Linked DNA regions of Homo sapiens: region 1 is linked to region 2. Evidence: fine-mapped expression QTL. A gene starts in region 2. The other region holds a variant in brackets. All regions are shown on one strand. Distances are from middle to middle. Region 1 overlaps PTPN9 (protein tyrosine phosphatase non-receptor type 9). Region 2 holds the start of COMMD4 (COMM domain containing 4).

Evidence for each region. PIP is the estimated chance that this variant, and not a neighbour inherited with it, causes the effect.
Region 1: its variant is the best candidate, but not a certain one, in a credible set for the expression of COMMD4 in monocytes (CEDAR, PIP 0.54).

The regions. Positions count from the first base shown.
Region 1 is chr15:75,536,966-75,541,353 of GRCh38, reverse strand. All of the region lies in intron 1 of PTPN9 (protein tyrosine phosphatase non-receptor type 9), which reads left to right. Among named protein-coding and RNA genes, the nearest start is that of PTPN9, 40 kb to the left of the region's middle. The variant A/T (reference allele first, on the strand shown) is at 2,258.
Region 2 is chr15:75,333,337-75,337,715 of GRCh38, reverse strand. It overlaps COMMD4 (COMM domain containing 4), which reads right to left and starts at 1,653. Exons shown (of 8, transcript NM_017828.5): 1 at 1,624-1,653. The coding sequence starts at 1,626. RefSeq lists enhancers at 1,260-1,429, 1,770-1,819.

The DNA of each region.
Region 1 (4,388 bases), 200 kb before region 2:
CCCAGCGCTTCAGTAGGCTAATGGGGGAAGATCACTGGAGGCCAGGAGTGCGACACCAGTCTCGGCTGGTGAGACCCTATCTCTACAAAAATTAAAAAAGTAGCCAGATGTGGTGGCACACACCTGTAGTTCCAGCTACTAGGGAGGCTGGGGCAGGAGAATCATTTGAGCCTAGGACTTCAAGGTTACACTGAGCTATGATCATGCCACTGCACTCAAGCCTGGGCAAGAGCAAGATCCTGTCTCTTTTTTTTTATTTTTTATTTTTTTATTTTTTGAGACAGGGTTTCACTGTTACCCAGGCTGAAGTGCAGTGGTGTGATCACAGCTCACTGCAGCCTGGACCTCCTAGGCTCAAGTGATCCTCCTACCTCAGCCTCCTGAGTACCTGGGACTACAGGTGTGCACCACCACACCTGGCTAATTTTTAATTTTTTTTTTAGAGACGAGGTTTCCCTGTGTTGCCCAGGCTGGTCTCAAACTCCTGGGCTCAAGCGATCCTCCCACCTCAGCTTCCCAAAGTGCTTGGATTACGGGCATGAGTCATCTCGTCCCACCTGGATCATCCTTTTTTTGTTTTAAATAGAGACAGGATCTCACTATGTTATCCATGCTGGTCTCAAGGAATCCTCCCACCTCAGCCTCCCAAAATGCTGGAATTATGTGTCACCTCACCTAGCAGCCGCCTGGATCATTCTTGCAGCAACTGAAAAGTACAAACAGGAAGGCAGCAGAAGTAGTGCTTCCAATCAGACCTGATTCACATTTTTCTTTCTTTCTTTCTTTCTTTCTTTTTTTTTTTTTTTTTTTAGAGACAGAGTCTTGCTCTGTCACCCAGGCTGGTGCGATCTCAGCTCACTGCAACCTCCACCTCCTGGGTTTAAGCGATTCTCCTGCTTCAGCCTCCTGAATGGCTGGGATTACAGGCATGTGCCACCACGTCTGGCTAATTTTTGTATTTTTAGTAGAGACAGAGTTTTGCCATGTTGGCCAGGCTGGTCTCGAACTCTTGAGATCCACCTGCCTTGTCTTCCCAAAGTGCTAGGATTACAGGCGTGAGCCAACATGCCCGGCCACACATTATTTTTAAAAAAGTATTTACAGTGCACTCAAACTTAGTTGACTCTATTCCCTTTTCTTTCATTGTGCCTATTTATTTGCTCTATCTCAATGGACTAAACTTTTGTAAAAGTCAGTTTCACTTTTGTTTTTTATTTCTGATGCTTTCCTTCAAAAAGGCAGAGAAACTGAGGGGTATTTTATGTCTTTAAATTTTTTAATGATACCTTTATAGGTCTTAGCCATAAGGAATTCTATACTTCACACTTCCTAATAAATAAAACGTGACATATAATTTAGAAGTTCACACATTCAGGCCAGACGTGGCGGCTCTTGCCTATAATCGCAGCACTTTGGGAGGTCAGGGGAGTTGCTTGAGGCGGATTACTTGAGGCCAGGAGTTCGAGACCAGCCTGGCCAACATGGTGAAACCCCGTCTCCACTAAAAATACAAAGTTAGCCTGGCGTGGTGGTGCGCGCCTGTAATCCCAGCTACTCAGGAGGCTGAGGCAGAAGAATCACTTGAACCTGGGAGGCCAAGGTTGCAGTGAGCCGAGATCACACCGCTGCACTCCAGCCTGGGTGACAGAGGGAGATTCTATCTCAAAAAACAACAATAAAAAAGTTCACATATTCAAATGGGTGAACATTTCTACCTTCGTGGTCCTCCAATTAAATCTTCTCTACTAGGCTGGGCGCGGTGGCTCATGCCTGTAATCCCAGCACTTTGGGAGGCTGAGGCGGGCGGATCATGAGGTCAGGAGTTCGAGACCAGTCTGGCCAACGTAGTGAAACCCCGTCTCTACTAAAAACACACACAAAAAGTAGGCAGGTACGCCTGTAATCCCAGCTTCTTGGGAGGCTGAGGCAGGAGAATCACTTGAACTTGGGAGGCAGAGGTTGCAGTGAGCCAAGATTGTGCGATTGCACTCCAGCCTGGGTGGCAGTGCGAGACTCCATCTCAAAAAAAAAAAAAAAATCTTCTAAATACCAACTTCCTTCAGAGAGAAGATAGTAAATGTAATTTGTTTACTAAAGATAAATCACTGGCCGGGCACAGTGGCTCACGCCTATAATCCCAGCACTTTGGGAGGCCAAGGCGGGCGGATCATGAGGTCGAGAGATCAAGACCATCCTGGCCAAAATGGTGAAACACCTGAGATTACAGGCGTGAGCCACCACGCCCGGCCAAAAAAAA[A/T]TTTTTTAAAGGTTGCTTATAGTTATCTTCCAATGCTGTTTCCCAGTTCATTTTCTTTCTTTCTTTCTTTCTTTCTTTTTTATTTTTTTTATAGAGACTGGGTCTTGCTTTGTTGCCTAGGCTGGTCTGGAACTACTGGATTCAAGTGATCCTCCTGCCTCAGCCTCACAAAGTGTTGGGGTTACAGGTGTGAAGCATTACACCCAGCCCCAGTTCATTTTCTCTCCCCAGAGGTGACCATTATTACCAGTTTTTTGTGTATCCTACAAATATTTATGTGCATATCTAAATTCCTATAATACTTTTTGCTTACTAATAGTCATATTACTTGTTTCATATACTGTATACTTAGATATACACTGTGTGGTTTCTGAATTTTATTCTCTTCTTTAACATTCCTTTTTTTTTTTGAGACAGGGTCTGGCTGTGTCACCCAGGCTGGGGGGCCATGCAGTGGTACAGTTTCAGCTCACTGCAGCCTCTGCCTCCCGGGCTTAAGTGATCCTCCCACTTGTGGGACTGTAGGCGTGTGCCATCATGCTGGGCGAATTTTTGTATTTTTTGTAGAGACGGGGTTTTGTCATGTTCCTCAGGCTGGTCACGAACTCCTGAGATCAAGCAGTCTGCCCACTTCGGCCTCCCAGAGTGCTGGGATTATAGATTGGAGCCACCACACCTGGCCTAAAATTCCTGTCTTTTTGCATCAGGTTGTTACGCATCTTTTGGCTTCTGTTAGGTATGACCTTCAGTGCAATGTTACATAGTGGTGGTAATAGCAGGTACCTGCTGGCCTTCTCATCTTTAATAGAAAAAAATTACGGGGCCTATGTGTGATGGATTTTACGCAGTGCATTTTCAGCATCTGTTGAGAAGGTTATATACTTTTTTTTCCTTTCCTGTTAACATAAAAATTGCTTTGATAGATCTCCTGATGTTAAACCAAGTCTTTACATTCCTCGGAGAAGCCTGTAATGTGAGAGCTATCTTTACTGTGAAGCTTTGTGTGTGTGTGTGTTTTGTTTTGTTTTGTTTTGTTTCGAGACAAAGTCTTGCTCTCTCTCCCAGGCTGGAGTACAGTGGCACAATCTTGGCTCACTGCAACCTCTGCCTCCTGGGTTCAAGTGATTCTCCTGCCTCAGCCTCCTGAGTAGCTGGGATTACAGGCAGGCACCACCACACACAGCTAATTTTTGTATTTTTAGAAGAGACAGGGTTTCACTATGTTGGCCAGGCTGGTCTTGAACGCCTGACCTCAGGTGATCCGCCTGCCTTGGCCTCCCAAAGTGCTGGGATTACAGGTGTGAGCCACCACGCCTGGCCTTTTTTTTTTTTTTTTTTTTTTTGAGATGGAGTCTCCCTCTGTTGCCCTGCTGGAGTGCAGTGGCACCATCTCGGCTCACTGCAACCTCCGCCTCCTGAGTTCAAGTGATTCTCCTGCCTCAGCCTCCCGAGTAGCTGGGACTACAGGTGCGCACCACCACGCCCAGCTAAGTTTTTTGCATTTTTAATAGAGGTGGGGGTTTCACCGTGTTGGCCAGGATGGTCTTGATCTCTTAACCTCATGGTCCACCCACCTAAGCCTCCCAAAGTGCTGGGATTACAGGCGTGAGCCACCGAGCCTGGCCTTTTTTTTTTTTTTTTTTTTTTTTTTTTAGGGAAGATATTTGACGATTCCTCTTGTTTTTGTTTAGATCACCATTTATTTGATTTTCAGCAATCACTAGTTTTTTTTTTTTTTTTTTTTTGAGACGGAGTCTCACTGTGTCACCCAGGCTGGAGTGCAATGGCATGATCTCGGCTCACTGCAACCTCAGCCTCCTGGATTCAAGCAATTCTCTTGCCTCAGCCTCCTGAGTAGTTGGGATTACAGGCGCCCACCACCATGCCCAGCTAAGTTTTGTATTTTTAGTAGAGACGGAGTTTTGCCATATTGGTCAGGCTGGTCTCGAATTCCTGACCTCAGGTGATCCGCCTGCCTTGGCCTCCCAAAGTGCTGGGATTACAGGTGTGAGCCACCATGCCTGGCCTGCAATCACTAGTATTTCTAAAAGAAAATTGTAAAAGTTCCTTTGTTCTTCATCTTCTGTCTGCCCTCTAAATGTTAATAATATTGAGACTTCAATAATTAATT
Region 2 (4,379 bases):
CCCCATACCCACACAACTCCAGCCACTCCAGCTTCCCTGCTGCTGCTGGGGCACACCAGCCTTGCTCCCGCCTCCATGCCTGCTGCACTCTCTGTGTGGCTTGCTATCCTTTTTTTTTTTTTTTTGAGACAGTTTCACTCTTGTTCCCCAGGCTGGAGTGCAATGGCGCGACCTCGGCTCACTGCAACCTCCGCTTCCCAGGTTCAAGTGATTCTCCTGCCTCAGCCTCCCAAGTAGCTGGGATTACAGGCATGTGCCACCACACTCGGCTAATTTTGTATTTTTAGTAGAGACAGAGTTTCACTATGTTAGCCAGGCTGGTCTTGAACTCCTGACCTCAAGTGATCCGTCCCCCTCAGCCTCCCAAAGTGCTGGGATTACAGGCGTGAGCCACGGCGCCTGGCCAGTGGCTTGCTATCCTTTAAGTGACACATCAGACCAGCCCTTCTTTTTTTAAAAAATAAAAAAATAAGACAGAGTCTCCCTCTGTTGCCCAGGCTGGAGTGCCATGGCCATGCTGGTCTCGAACTCCTGACCTCAGGTGATCCACCCTCTTCACTCTCCCAAAGTGCTAGGATTACAGGCATGAGCCACCGCACCCAGCCAGAACAGCCTTTCTTGATTATACTTCTTAAAATAGCCCCTCACACAAGGAAATTATGGAGGCCAGTGGATACGTTCATTATCTTGATTGTGGTGATCCAAGAGCCAGGAAGATTTGTTCTCTACTTGTCCAGCCTCATCTTTCCCTAACCTGCAGATGATACTCTCCCAGCTATGGGAAATGCATCCATTCCTGGGGAGCCATACTCTCTCTAACCTGAAGTCTCTGCACATGCTGTTCCCTGTCTGAAGACACACGTCTCCCACCCTTGCCTCCCTACCCCTGGTACACAAACTGTACTTCAGCCAGCCAGCTCCTGCCATCCATCCGCCTTTAAGTTTGATGGCATCCTTAGGAAGCCCCCTTAGCACTACACACAAGGCGCAGTTAGGTCTCTGCCCCTGGAGCCTTAGCTATGACTCCAATTCAAGCCTCCGATTTCCCCTTCCCTTGGCAGCTCAAGTCCTCCCAGTGCCTAGCACACTTCATGGTATAGACCAGGCGCTTAGAACGTACGGATGGATGGATTGGATGGATGGATGGATAAGTCTCAACCCCAAAACTACTACTTTCTGGCTCTGGAAAGAGCGGAGGGGCTTCCTAACAGTGTGGAAGAGTGAGCCTGATTCTAAGCACCTTCTTGTACAAGCCCCACGGCAGGGCTGGGGAAGGGGGTATCCTTGGGAGGTCCTCTTGGGGATGGGGAAGACCTGAAAGGACTCCCAGCTCCAGACAAGCCCTAGTTCCTGCCCCGGGAGGCAGGGGCCCTTCCTTCCGCCAGGGAAGCACCGGGACTCTAAGCCGGCCGGCCTGCTCTGTCTTACCCGCCCCGTACCCCCGCCCCCGTCTCGGGAGCGGGAGAGTGGTGGACTTTTCCCTACCAGACTCACAGCCCTCACGCCCGCACACACTGTGTTTGCGGAGAGGCCAGTACAACCTCCCCCAGTTTCCGGAGCCACTTGGCGCCCCCTCATTCCCGCTCCAGCAGCCCAAGCCTCGCTTCGCCCCTAGTGCCTCACCATCGCGCCAAGAAGCCAGGGCCCGGGAATTTCTTTTTCCGGTCCCGCAGGGTCAGCTGAGTCGACGATCACGTGACTTGGACTAACTGCCTCTGGGAGGGCGGGGCCTGCTCGAGTGAGGCCGGGAGCGGACCGCAGCCCGCTGGAGGTGCAGGGGGCGAAATGCTGGCGTCTCCTCCTCCGTCTCCCAGAATCCTTCCCTGGAAAAAACTGGCGCCAACCGCCAGTTTAACTGAGGACCGAATTAAGACATTAGGAAAGACAGTGGAAGTTATTTCATTTGTTTAACTTAAGGGGGTAGGATCCCGGGAGCCAGGGTGTTTCAGGTCATTGACACGTTTTCCACTGTTAAGCGAATAGCATTATTCACAGCTGCGGGCTGTGGCAAAAGACATTTTAAAAACTATTGACGTCTACTACACATACAGAAAATTGTACCTATTATAAAGCTTAATAAGTTTTCATCAACTGTACACCTCACATAACCAGCACCCAGGTAAGGAAATAAACCAGATAACTTCTTCAAGTGCATGGGTATTTTATTTCATTTTGATGAATCATCTAGGTGCCTAGCAAAAAGGGCTGTCATAATTACTTGCTCAGGAAAACTCCCTACAGCTTCAACATCAATAGATGCTTATCTTAATTTTTGCCAGTCTGATGGGGAAGAAAAATCGGTTGCTTAGGTTGCAGTGGTAGTCTGATTACTGGTAGCTCTGAGCTAATGGGTAGTCTAGAACAACTAAGTTTCCGACATTGACTTGAAGAGGCAAAAACAAAAAGACAAAACAACAAGAAAAATACATTTGAGAATAGACTAATAACCAGAGACAAAATTGAATACAGTCGTCCTTTGGTAACCTCAGGATGTTGGTTCCAGGACCCCAGAGATACCAAAATTCACAGATACTCAAGTCCCTGATATAATATGGCATAGTATTTGCAAATAACCTGTGCACATCCTTCCGTATACTTTAAATCATCTCTAGATTACTATAATACCTAATACAACGTAAATGCTTTGTAAATAGCTGTTATAAAGTTTTTTAATTTTTTTTTTTGAGACGGAGTCTTGCTCTGTTGCCCAGGCTGGAGTGCAGTGGCGCGATCTCCACTCGCTGCCAGCTCTGCCACCCGGGTTCACGCCATTCTCCTGCCTCAGCCTCCCGAGTAGCTGGGACTACAGGCGCCCGCCACTGCACCCGACCTGTGTTTTTTTATTGTTTTACTTTTTCCAAATATTTTCGATGCACAGTTGGTTAAATCCAAGGATCCAGAACCTCAGGATACAGAGGGCTGACTGTAGTTTGAGCTCTCTCCTCAATTCCATGCCTATCCCATGCAACAGGTGCAGCTGGTTTTATTGTTGCAGGCTTTCAGGTTTTTAAAAGACAGAGCCCATGACAATTAAACTGCACTATAAAATAGAAATGTAAAGTGTCCCCAATTCATGGTAAAATTGAGCTCATTTCTGAAGAGTTCTTTTACAAATCATAACCACTAGCCTGTTGAAAACAACAGTACGTTAAGTTACTAGACTATCCTAAACCATGTCAAAAAAATTTTTTAAGAATGTTAAGACCTTTAATCATAGCACTTTGGTAGGCCAAGGCCGGTGGATCGCTTGAGCCCAGGAGTTCTAGACCAGCTTGTGCAACATAGGGAGACCCCAGTCTCTACAAAAAATTACCCGCTTGTCCTGGTGCACACGTGTTGTCCCAGCTACCTAAGAGGCTGAGGTCAGAGGATCTCTTGAGCCTGGGAGGTGGAGGCTGCAGTGAACCATGATGGCACCACTGTACTCCATCCATCCTGAGCAACAGAAGGAGACCATCTCAGAAAAATAAAATAAAATAAAAATAAATAAATAAATAAATAAATAAATAAATAAAGGCTGGGCACGGTGGCTCATGCCTGTAATCCTAGCACTTTGGGAGGCCGAGGCAGGCAGATCACCTGAGGTCAGGAGTTCGAGAGCGGTGGCCTGGCTAACATGGCAAAACCTGTCTCTACTGAAAAAAAACAAAAAAAATTAGCAGGGTGTGGTAGTGGGTGCCTGTAATCCCAGCCAGTCAGGAGGCTGAGGCATGAGAATCGCTTGAACGCGGGAGGTGGAGGCTGCAGTGAGCCGAGATTGCACCGCTGCATTTCAGTCAGCTTGGGCAACAGTGTGAGACTCCGTCTCAAAAAAAAAAAAAAAAAAAAGATGATTTGACTATTTAGAGCCGTGGTTCTCACACATTAGAGTGCATCATCATCACCTGCAGGGCTTGTGAAACCGGCTGCTGGGCCTCACACCAGAGTTTCTAACTCAATAGGACTGAGGTGGGGCCTGAGCATTGCGTGTCTATATTCCCAGGTGACATTTGAGACCATGCTTTGAAAACCACTAGTGTAGGGAAATATACTACAGAATATGTTATGAATATTCTTGAGAATATGTATATATGTTAACTTAGGGTTTCTGTCCAGTGGAAAAGATAACACCCAAAGATGGCAGTTTTATTTCCCAATATGATTTTCTTTTTTTTTTTTGAAATGGAGTCTCGCTCTGTCACCCAGGCTGGAGTGCAGTGGCGCCATCTTGGCTCACTGCAACCTCCACCTCCTGGGTTCACGCCATTCTCCTGCCTTAGCCTCCCGAGCAGCTGGGACCACAGGCGCCCGCCACCACGCCGGGCTAATTTTTTTATATTTTTAGTAGAGACGGGGTTTCACCGTGTTGGCCAGGATGGTCTCAATCTCCTGACCTCGTG